3 linked regions of the Homo sapiens genome follow. The protein of the gene in region 3 interacts with the protein of the main gene of each other region in a biochemical or structural test. Each region holds a gene or a part of one and is shown on either strand. Other genes may lie near its edges.

Region 1 (3,821 bases), on a different chromosome or scaffold from region 3:
TCAGGCCGGAGTGTAGTGACGCTATCAAGGCTCACTGTAGCCTCAACCTCCAGCGCTCAATCGATCGATCCTCCCACCTCAGCCTCCTGAGCAGCTGGGAACTACATGCTCACACCATCACACCTGGCCAATTTTTTTTTGTAGAGTTGGGGTCTTGCTATGTTGCCCAGGCTGTATATTATTTCAGTCCCAACAACACCATGGGGCTAGTATCCCAGCACACTATTAAGAGAAACAGATAAGGCTGGGATTCCAACCCTGGCACTGAGTCCCCTCTCAACGACACCCTTACATTGTCTGTCCGGAATCACAGCGTTTCTGGATTTGGTGATCAGGAGGTTACCTGGAGCCTGCTGAAGTGAAATCTGCATTAACTGTACGTTTCAAAGTGCAAAGAAAAGGAGAAAGCCAAGGTGATGAGAGGCGGGCAGGGAGCAGGAAAAGGGAGGCTGTGTTAGATGGGCACTACATATTTAAACATCCAAAAAAATTAAATTCTGTGAACATCCAAAACAATGTAAGGTCGGGGCAGTTTATTTTACGCTGTTGCCCGGAGCTTCATAACCAACTAGCAGTGGCGTCTGCAAATCTAGTTTCTTCACTTTCGGCAGCCCCAGCCGTGGGCGTGGGAGGTCAAAGACCAAAACTAAACCGTTGCCCTCCAGCGTACCGGCTGGACGCTCTCGACCCATTTAACAAAGGAGAAATCGGCCGGCGCGCTCATCGCCAGTTACATAATGCGTCACAGGCTCTCGGGTGAGGCTTCAGCCCTCCAAAACCAGGCCTAAAATGCTGAGGCCCTAGGGGAAGCTCTGGGGGCGTCCGGGCAGCCACAGCCTACTCTGTCCCGGCGACGTCCCTCTCCAGCGCCCTGGCCTGTGGGGGGAGAGGGGGATCCGGCCTGTTTCCGAACCTAGGTCCCTCTTGGGTCTGAAGCCCGGGAAAAGTGAATGAATTTCTGCCGCAGGCCGAACCTGCCTGGCCACGCCACAGGCCGGGTTCCCGGTGCTCGGGGTGGCCCCCAGGCATGGGACATGGACCCCGGGACCTCTGGCCTGGGGGGGCCTCGACACACGCAGGCTGAACCTCCCCACCGCCCCTGGCCCTGTCTCCGCTGGGTCCCACCCAGGAGGCCGGCACAGGCCTCCGCGCCGTGCCGCTCGCTGCACGCCCGCCGCCCGGTGTACCTGGGTGGGCGTCAGCACTTTGCCCAGCTCGTCCACCGCCGCCCCGGCGTAGGTGACATGCAGCGGGTGCTGCGGCTGCTCGTCCACTTCTTGCAGGCTCAAGGGCCCGGACCACTTGCTGAGGTCCACCGGCATGGCGAGGCCAAGCAGAGCGTGCAGCCGGGAGTGCCGCGGTAGGCCAGGCGCGGGCGACAGAGGCGACGCGGAGAGCTCAGCACACTGGCTCGGGAAGACGCAGACCCAGCGACCACGCGAGAGCACGCGCCTCAGCCGCCGCCCAGCCCCGCGCACCGCCCCACGTCACGCCCACCGCTCCCTGGCCTCTGATTGGCCGAAGCTGGCAGAGCAGGGCCTCTCGCGCTCCTGGGTCCATGCAACCTGCTCCCTGTGGCTGCCGAGTTCTCGGGAACAGCGGCTCGGCCTGCAAGGCTGTTGTTTCAAGAAATGAAAATGAAGGGCGCCCTGGAATAGGTTCGCCGAAGAGAGAGGTTCGTGTCTCAGAAAGTGTCGCTGGGAAAAAAAAATGCAATTGAATTCGCCTTGGTTGCGTTTTGGTTTTCTTAATTTTTTGCATGATTCTTTGCTCCACTTTCCAAATTCAGCAACATGGCCTGTCGCGGTGGCTCATGCCTGTATTCCCAGCACTTTGGGAGGCCAAAGCAGGAAGATCGCTTGAGCCCAGGAGTTTGAGACCATCCTGGACAAGGTAGCAAGACCCCGTCTTTACAGAAAACTTAAAAAAAAAGAAAAAAAGAAAAAAGCCAGACACAGTGGTGCATGCTTGTAGTCCTAGCTACTCCGGAGGCTGGGGCGGGAGGATCACTTTTTTTTTTTTTTTTTTTTGAGACGGAGTCTCTCTGTGTTGACCAGGCTGGAGTGCAGTGGCGTGATCTCGGCTCACTGCAAGCTGCGCCTCCCGGGTTCACGCCATTCTCCTGCTTCAGCCTCCCGAGTAGCTGTGACTACAGGCGCCCGCCACCACGCCCGGCTAATTTTTTGTATTTTTAGTAGAGACGGGATTTCACCGTGTTAGCCACGATGATCTTGATCTCCTGACCTCGGCCTCTCAAAGTGCTGGGATTACAGGCGTGAACCACCACGCCCGGCCGATCACTTCTTGAATCTAGGAGTTTGAGGCCGCGGTGAGCTACGATCTTGCCACTGCACTCCTGTCTGCGCTTCAGAGCCAGATCCCATCTTCTCATACACACACACACACACACACACACACACACACACACACACAGCAAATTCAGAAACAGTAAGGCCTTGCTTTTCTCCTGCACTTTAAAACGAGCCAGATTCTCTGTATTTTCGCACGTGATCACTTGTCATAGTAATTGCCTGGTGAGAGCACCTGAGTGAACTTTTGAGCATTTAAATATATGGGGAAATGTATTTGTCCGTTTTCTCCACACACAAAATTCGTCCTCACAAAATTCCTGAGAAATGTTTGGGTTTTGGTTTTTTATGTTTGTTTTTTGAAAAACAATTTTAAACCATATTTATTCATACCAAAACTGCTCTTACTGTGACCACAAGCTGCTTGCTTTTTGCTGAATATGATAAGCACTATTTTTTTTTTTTTTTTTTGAGACGGAGTCTTGCTCTGTCGCCCAGGCTGGAGTGCAGTGGCGTGATCTCAGCTCACTGCAACCTCTGCCTCCCGGGTTCAAGCAATTCTCCTGTCTCAGCCTCCCGAGTAGCTGGGATTACAGGCAGGCGGCACCGCGCCCAGCTAATTTTTGTATTTTTAGTAGAGACAGAGTTTCACCATGTTGGCCAGGCTGGTCTCGAACTCCTGACCTCATGATTCGCCTGCCTCAGCCTCCCAAACTGCTGGGATTACAGGCAATAAGCCACCGCGCCCAGCCAATAAGCACTATTTAACAGTTCTTATCTGTTTTGACTCTTGACATTGATAATTCCTCCCATGGAATAAAAAGTTGTCTCTTGATTTACATTCTTACTAGGAAATAATACGAGTTCATTGTAGAAAATCAAAGAAAAAAACCCAAAGAAGTAGAAATCCCCTTCTATCCCACTACTTTGTTATAAACGTCAGTAATCATTTAGGGTATATCTTTCCTATTTAAAAATAATATGAGTATAGATGATTTTGTTGTTTATTCACCAAAAGATTGCATTATATCCTACCATTATAAAATAGTCATATCAAAAATAGGTCGTCAGGCCAGGTGCGGTTGCTGAGGCCTCTAATCCTAGCACTTTGGGAGGCTGAGGCAGGAGGATCACTTGAGTCCAGGAGTTTGAGACCAGCCGGGACAACATGGTGAAACCCCATCTCTACAACAAAATACAAAAATTAGCCCGGTATGGAGGGATGTGCCGGTAGTCACAGCTACTACCAAGGCTGAGGCAGGAGGATCACTTGAGCCTGGGAGTTTGAGGCTGCAGTGAGCCGTGATTGTGCCACTGCACTCCAGCCTGGGCGACAGAGTGAGACCCTATCTCTACAAAAATAAAGCAAAATAAAAAAAGTCTTCAACATTTTAATGACTTCTCTAGATGCACCATCATTTATTCAACAAGCCTCTTGATGTACTCTGTTTTGTTCATTGTTTTCCTTTTACAAATATCACTGAAATGAACTTCCTTATACATATATCTTTA
Region 2 (3,821 bases), on a different chromosome or scaffold from region 3:
TGAATGGTGGCCGCCCAGCGTGTGAATGTGTGGGAATGATGGCTGCCCCACGTGTGAATGCGTATGAACAGTGGTCACCCGGCGTGTGAATGTGTGGGAACAGTGGCCGCCCCGCCTGGGAATGGTGAATGGTGGCCGCCCCGCCTGTGAATGGTGAATGGTGGCCGCCCCGCCTGTGAATGGTGAATGGTGGCCGCCCCGCCTGTGAATGGTGAATGGTGGCCGCTCTGCCTGTGAATGGTGAATGGTGGTCGCCCTGTGTGTGAATGGTGAATGGCGGCCGCCCTGCCTGTGAATGGTGAATGGTGGCCGCCCCGCCTGTGAATGGTGAATGGTGGCCGCCCCGCCTGTGAATGGTGAATGGTGGCCGCTCTGCCTGTGAATGGTGAATGGTGGCCGCTCTGCCTGTGAATGGTGAATGGTGGTCACCCTGTGTGTGAATGGTGAACGGTGGCCGCCCCGCCTGTGAAAAGTGAATGGTGGACGCCCCGCATGTGAAGAGTGAAGAGTGGATGTACCGATTCTGTACAGAGATAGCTGCTTACATCCTCCGCCTCTTCTTTGGGTTCACGGCGGGCGATGATGGCCTCGGACTTCACTCTGTGGGAAGGGGAAGGAGGCAGGGAGGGTGAGGGCCTCCCAGGGGCCTCGGGAACACATAGCGGGCAGTGCCCGCCCCGAACCTGTGTCCTTGCCTCTGTGCAGGGCTGGGGGCTCTCCCCACAGGGACCCCTTCAGCAGCCGTTTGGTTCAGGGCCCTGAACGCTTCTTCCAGTTCCCTGGGGACAGGTGGCCCTGAGCCACTGCTGCATGAGTGCTCTGAAGCCCAGCCGTCCATCCTGGCTGCCCGGGAATGCGGAGGGGGAGCAAAGCAGAGGGGCCCTGGCTTTGGCAAACCCAGAGCAGATCTGGGTCCCTTCTTAGGCAGAGGCATGGTCTCGGAGCGCCCACACCTCCTCTGTCCATCAGAGAAGGGCTGGAGCCCCAACATACAGCTCTCCGGGGGCCGTGGCCAAACCTTGGCTGATCAAAGGGCTGGAGGAGTGGGATGGTGGGAGCTGTGCAGAGAAGGAACGCGTGAGACAGGCCCAGCGTGTGCTGTAGGAGGCTCAGGAGGAGACCACGGCCCCACTCTGCTGGTTGGGGTGGAGTGGCTGTGAGCTGGAGCTGGAGGTAGGTAGGCTATGCACAGAGCCGCTCAGGCTGGAGAGCAGGCACTGGAGGAGGCAGCCACTCCAGAGCCCTGAGGCCGGGGTCCCTCTCTGACCAGCTTTCCATGCCCTGCCCTCACCTTTTCAGTTCCTCTTCCAGCTCCTTGATACGGTTTTCCAGCTTGACTTTGGCCTGCTTAGCAGCCTCCAACTCGCCCCTCAGCACCTCCTGCTCCCCGGACAGCTGGTCGACCTTGGCAATCAGGTCATTCTTCACCACATTCAAGGCGTTTCTTTGAAAAAGCAGAAAGATGGGAGTGCCACGGGCGCGGCATACAGGTACGTGAAGGGGCCTTGCCAGGGGCGCCTGCACTTCCGCCCTGGAGAAGGCACAGCCTGGTTAGGAAGGTGGCTGAATGGGAGACCCCATCCCCATCTTAGCTAAACCCTATAGCACCCTTGTTAGAGGCTCCTGGAGACAAGCTTCGTAAAGAAACCAGGCAGAGTCCTGCTCCAAGTTCCTCCCGCCAGAGATGAGGACAGCTGCTGGCGTTGGAGCCAGGTGCTCCCCAAGGCGCCCTCTGGCCCGGCTCACTCTCCCAGCCCTGACAAGGAGGGCTGCCTCAGCCCCACCACACAGGAGAAGGGCACTCTTACTTGGTTTCCAGAAGCTGTGAGTTTTCCAGTAGCAGATTCCCCACTTCTTTGCCCATTCCTGAAACAGAAGGTGCGGAGGTTTCACCTGTGCCCTTCAAAACAGGTCACTGATGCCGCCGCACCTGCCTCAGGGCAACAACGCTTCCAAAGAGGGTAGCCTGGCTGGGGATGACGCCCGATCTACAGGGAGCGGGGGCCGTGAAGGGCGGGGCTCATGCTGGGCCCGCAGTCTGTGCACAGAGCAGGCTCCCAGGCCTTGGGGTGGTTCTCATGTCCGACCAATGTCACAGGCCAGCTGGCCGGACGCAGGCCCCTGAATGGCCGCTGGGCTGCCATCTCAGTGCCCCCAGCAGGTCTGTCACCAGGCAGGCCCTCTCGGAGCCACCACCCTAGGCGAGTGATGTTGGAGCTGCGGTGAGGGGACAGGTGGGCAAGGAGAGGCCTGGCCCTCACGGCAGGGCCAGCAGGGCTGGGGTGCGGCGATGGGGCGCGGCTGTGAGGACAGGGCTCCCTGGCAGGACTGAAGGCTCCTCTACCACGAGGCCCCAAGTGGACCTGGACTGATCTCCCTGCAAGCATGCCCCAGAAACCCCAAAAGGATGGAAAGAAACTCCAAGGTCCTGCCCTCCCACACACTCCCCCACTGTGTATGCAGTCATGAAACAGCATCACACGCCTCTGTGCCTGGGCTCAGGGGTCCTGCCTGCTGTCTCTATTATGACCTCCCTTGCCTCAAACATGGGCCTTCCTCCCCACAGGCAGGGTCTGCCCGGCGCTTGTGGGGTTCAGAGAGGCTGGGGCTGCCCTCCTCGGGCCTTCAAGTCTGTCCCTTGGGGAAGTCGCCACCTCCCACAGCCCAGAGGCAGCCTGGACAGAGCGAGCTTCACTCAGGGCTGCCCCCCTGACCCCGGCGGCCCCAACACTGTCCCCATCATGCAGAACAAAGCAAACGGCTCATGAAGCAGGAGACCATGTCGGGGTGGAGGAGCGACGCACGCTGGAACGGGGCCTCAGCCTTACCAAAGAAATCATCGCGCACTAGGGAGCCGTCCCCGTCCCACAGGAGATGGGCAACCAGGGCGGGAGGAGAGGGAGAAAGGGAGAGAAGAGAAGCGCGTTAAGCCCGTGTGGACAGCAGGCTGGGAGGAATTCAGAGCTGGGTCTGCTGGGTTAGGGTGGGTGCAGGAGGGAGTTAGGAGGGCAGGAGATGGGATGGAGCCAGCTATTCCTTCTGGAAAGTTTATCCTTGGGGTTACATGAAGACTGCCAGGCCAGTGTCACCTGTGGAGCAGGAAGCTAACATCTCACCCCAAATTCTGGGCTGGGTGGGGCTGAGGGCAGAAGGCACCCCTGTGGGGATGGGCTGTGCCTGGAGGCTGGGGGGCTGCATCTGGACAGCCTCTGGGTGGGGCCTCGGAGCCTCCTGCTGTGCAGCCAGAGAGCAGGACTCGGCCTGTCCACCCACGTGGGGAGGGGACCCCGGGCTGGGCTTCGTAGGGGCTTCAAGGACCCCTGACTTCTGGGGTGTGCCTGACAGCAGGGGAGGCCCCAGAGCTGGCCTTGGCCATGTCCAGTCACTGCCGTGCGTGGCTTAGGGCTCCGCAGGGCCTTCAGAAATGGCCCGCGGGGGACTCCTCAGGCTGGGGGGGTTGGATATCCAGGTCATTGTCAAGTGGCTGGTGGAGCAAACCGAACAAGCTTCCGAGCGGCGGTGGCTGCGAGCAGAAGCAGAGGCGCTGCGGCGACGTGGGGGGCAGTCCACACAGCCACGGTGACGGGATAGCTCGGGGCATCCCCCGTCCACCCACTCCCCCCGTCACACAGAGGGGAGACAGACAGGAGAGTGAGATACTCACCTGAGAACTCCCCTGGCGAGTCCAGCGACGCACAGAGAGGCAGGGGAAGGAAGGGACAAAGGTCAATTAGGGACTGGAACTAACAATACATTCTTATTACAGAAAACCCAGCAATGATTCGGCTGCTCCCATGTTGCAGGGCAGGAGAGAGAGGGAG
Region 3 (3,600 bases):
TTACAGGACAGTTGTATGAATCAGAGGATACAGCGGAAGAAAAAATGTTTGGAAATTTAGGTCTCTGCAAACTAAGGGCCAATGTACTGGTATTTGTGACAGTGACCGGATGGGTGGGATGGGGTGATAATAAGAGTGCAAGGAAGGGGGATGGGGGCATCGTTTTGACTCTGAGGAGCAGCTTTAAGGCCTCTCACATTCCAGCTCCAGGTAGCAAGGGGTTCCCCTTGACTGGCAGGGTAGATGTACCTGTGTAGGCTGTTAGGTGAGTGACTCCAGTGGAATGGAATGGAATCATGACTCAGCTCCCACCCTGCCACACATATTTGTAAGAAAAAGACCCACATGCTCCATGCCTGGTGCAGAAGTCTAGAATGGGAATTCCCGCCAAACCCTGTCCCCTTCTAGCCTGTGTAGCCTCAGCAAGCAGATAGGTCTTATTACTTGTTTTTTTCTGCCTCCTTCATGATCCAGCCATAGATACTATATCTTACCAGTAGGGGTGGTTGAAGCAACAGACTTTGAAATCCTGACTGTTCATGATAACGGACTCCTTCCTGTGGATCATCTGGCCAAGTCTGCATTCTTAGAGAGTGGAAATCGACTGTCTTTCTGTTCTACTTCTACAGCAGCTGCTCATTTCATCTCCTGACAGTTGCTTCTTGAACTCAGAACAAAGGGCCTTGGTGTACAGTGTTTGCAAGCCAAGGGCTGCCTCTGATGGCGGACGGGGGTGTGGTCCTGGGACTCGTGGTCAGGGCTGGTCTGTGTGGAATGCTGATCCTTCTCTTCCCCAATCTACCTGTGTCAGTTCCCTCCTTTTCTATTTTCTCTTCCCTGCAGATGTCAAGCCCTCCAACATCCTAGTCAACTCCCGTGGGGAGATCAAGCTCTGTGACTTTGGGGTCAGCGGGCAGCTCATCGACTCCATGGCCAACTCCTTCGTGGGCACAAGGTCCTACATGTCGGTATGAACAGAAGTTTCCATTGCTTGAGCTTCTTGTACGGTCAGGGAGAGGAGCCCAGTGGGTGCCTTTCCTGTGGAGCCAGAGTCTTGTGCTGGGTAGGGGACAAGAAGTGAGGGAGGAGGCACAGTGCTCTGCCCTGAGGAGATGAAGTTGAATGGGAAGATGGTCTTGGTCTTTCTTAGGCCTTGGAGCATAACTGGGATATTGGGGCCTTGACTCACTGAAAGGACTGTCCAGCTCCAGAGTGTGGCTTTCTTTCTGAAGGATTGTGAGCTCCAGCTCCCCTCTGGGCATCTCTACATGATAGTCTTCAGATCCACAAACCCAGGATGCTCAGATATAATCCACCCCAAACTACCTCACCTTCTCCTTTTCTCTTAGCAGTAAATAGACAGCATCATCTCCCTGGTTTCCCAAGGTAGAAACCTGAGCATTGGCTCTTAACCTGCCTTCTCAGCAGCCCGTCCTTTCAGTATCTTGTAGCTCCCAACTCCTGAGAGTCTGTTCAGAATTGTCCAGCCTCTTTTCTCCCTCCTCACTATGTCTGTCAGACATGTACCCCTCCTTCTAACTGCAGCATACCTGGACCCCTCGCCAGAGTCTCTGCTCCACTTCAGCCAACACCCTGTGTTGAGGGTATTTCCTCCTGCTCCTGGCTCTGCTGGCTCACACTGTCACCAGAGCATTGTGTGGGGCCATCCTCACACTATGGCAGCACCAGCGTGTTTTCTTCCCTCCTCCATACCACCGGTTCCTTGGGGACAGGGACAAGGTGTCTCTCTTGTCCCTAGTGCCTGGCATGGGGCCTGGCATGTGGTAGGTGTTCAGGGAATGCTTGGCAAGTGGGTAGATGTTTAGTTGGCTGAGTGGGAGGGTACATGGATAAAACATTTCTGAGAATGATTTGGAAAGGTGGAAACGTGAGTCTGGGCCAGTGCTGAAGTGCGGCAAAGTGGAGGAGCGTTGGAGTGAGTAGGCAGTCTTTACAGAAGTGGCGGGGAGTGCAGGCCCGCGTGGAGAGGGGGACAGGCGCAGAGGCTCAGATCTTAACTTGTACAAAGCATTTTATGTGTTCTCTGTCAAAGCACATGTCATGTCCCTGGAAGGTCTCATTTGATCCATGTGGTTGTCCCAGGAAATAAAGATTATTGTTCCCATTTTAGAGGTGAGGAAGTCTAGATTCAGGGAGGTTAAGCAACCTGCCTACTTAACCTTGCTGAGCCAGGATTGAAAGCTAGCTGCCCCCTTGCCAGGCAGACGCCCTTTGCACAGCACACCCTCATTTGCCTCTTGGGGAGGATTTGGCACCTGTGCCCAGATCCCAGTGTGAACACATCCTCATTCCTTCTTGCTGGCACCTACCCCCCACTGTGACTCCAGCCACTGTCAACATCACTCACCTGGCACTGACCCACATCCCCACCCCTCCCCTCCAGTGACCCACAGTGGAACTCTCTTTCTCTGTCATCTCCTCATTGCTTCTTCCCTAAATGTCTAATAACTGAGCAGCTGGCATCCTGGGCCATTTGACTGCCAACTCTCAAGTTCAAAATCCATTAACAGGCCCTGGGAGTTACTAATCAAGGGTTTAATGGTTGGGGTTTTTGTGGTTATATGGTCAGTTACGAAATAGTCCAGTGTTGGAGTTAGTGAAAAATGCTACTGGAGAAGTTAATGTCTACGTGAATATACTATGGGCAGAATAAAGATTTTTTCGGTAGGGTTCTTGAAATACATGTGCTATTTCAAATAATGCTCATTAAAAATAATGCTTTTGTATAGCACTGTATACTTTTTTTCTCTTTGGCTTTTCCCACCAATATCAACCAATATTTGTATTGCATTTTACAACATTTGACATACATTTTCTTTTTTTTTTTTTTTTTGAGACGGAGTCTCACTGTGTCACCCAGGCTGGAGTGCAGTGGTGCAATCTCGGCTTACTGCAAGCCCTGCCTCCCAGGTTCACTCCATTCTCCTGCCTCATCCTCCCGAGTAGCTGGAACTACAGGCGTGTGCCACCACGCCCGGCTAATTTTTTTGTATTTTTAGTAGAGACGGGGTTTCACCGTGTTAGCCAGGATGGTCTCGATCTCCTGACCTTGTGATCCACCCACCTCGGCCTCCCAAAGTGCTGGGGTTACAGGCATGAGCCACCGCGCCTGGCTGTACATTTTCATTTGATTTGATCTTCTTAGTAATCCTAAGTAGAGTTTTCTTATATCATTGTTACTGTCATTTTCATCATCATCAGCCACCACCCCCCCCCACCTTTTTTTCTTCCGACATGGAGTTTTCGCTCTTCTTGCCCAGGCTGGAGTGCAGTGGTGCGATCTTGGCTCACTGCAACCTCTGCCTCCCGGGTTCAAGTGATTCTCCTGCCTCAGCCTCCCAAGTAGCTGGGATTACAGGCATGCACCACCATGTCCAGCTAATTTTTGTATTTTTAGTAGAGATGGGGTTTCACTATGTTGGCCAGGCTGGTCTCGAACTCCTGATCTCATGTGATCCGCCTGCCTCAGCCTCCCAAAGTGCTGGGATTACAGGTGTGAGCCACTGCGTCCCGGCCCAGCAGCAGCCCCATTTTATAGATGAGGCTGATATTCAGGATCTTTTAGCTTGTAAGTCCCGG

Evidence for each region.
Region 1: the proteins of MAP2K1 (region 3) and PEBP1 form a complex in vitro, tested with the Homo sapiens proteins (one study listed by BioGRID).
Region 2: the proteins of MAP2K1 (region 3) and MAPK8IP3 form a complex in vitro, tested with the Homo sapiens proteins (one study listed by BioGRID).

Annotation. Positions count from the first base shown.
Region 1 is NC_000012.12:118,133,711-118,137,531, reverse strand, and holds the start of PEBP1 (phosphatidylethanolamine-binding protein 1), read right to left. Parts: upstream 1,409-3,821; 5' UTR 1,323-1,408; coding exon 1,188-1,322; intron 1-1,187.
Region 2 is NC_000016.10:1,758,003-1,761,823, reverse strand, and holds part of MAPK8IP3 (C-Jun-amino-terminal kinase-interacting protein 3), read right to left. Parts: intron 3,677-3,821; coding exon 3,665-3,676; intron 2,847-3,664; coding exon 2,829-2,846; intron 1,867-2,828; coding exon 1,809-1,866; intron 1,445-1,808; coding exon 1,292-1,444; intron 601-1,291; coding exon 519-600; intron 1-518.
Region 3 is NC_000015.10:66,480,912-66,484,511, forward strand, and holds part of MAP2K1 (dual specificity mitogen-activated protein kinase kinase 1), read left to right. Parts: intron 1-843; coding exon 844-968; intron 969-3,600. UniProt on the Homo sapiens protein: Dual specificity protein kinase which acts as an essential component of the MAP kinase signal transduction pathway.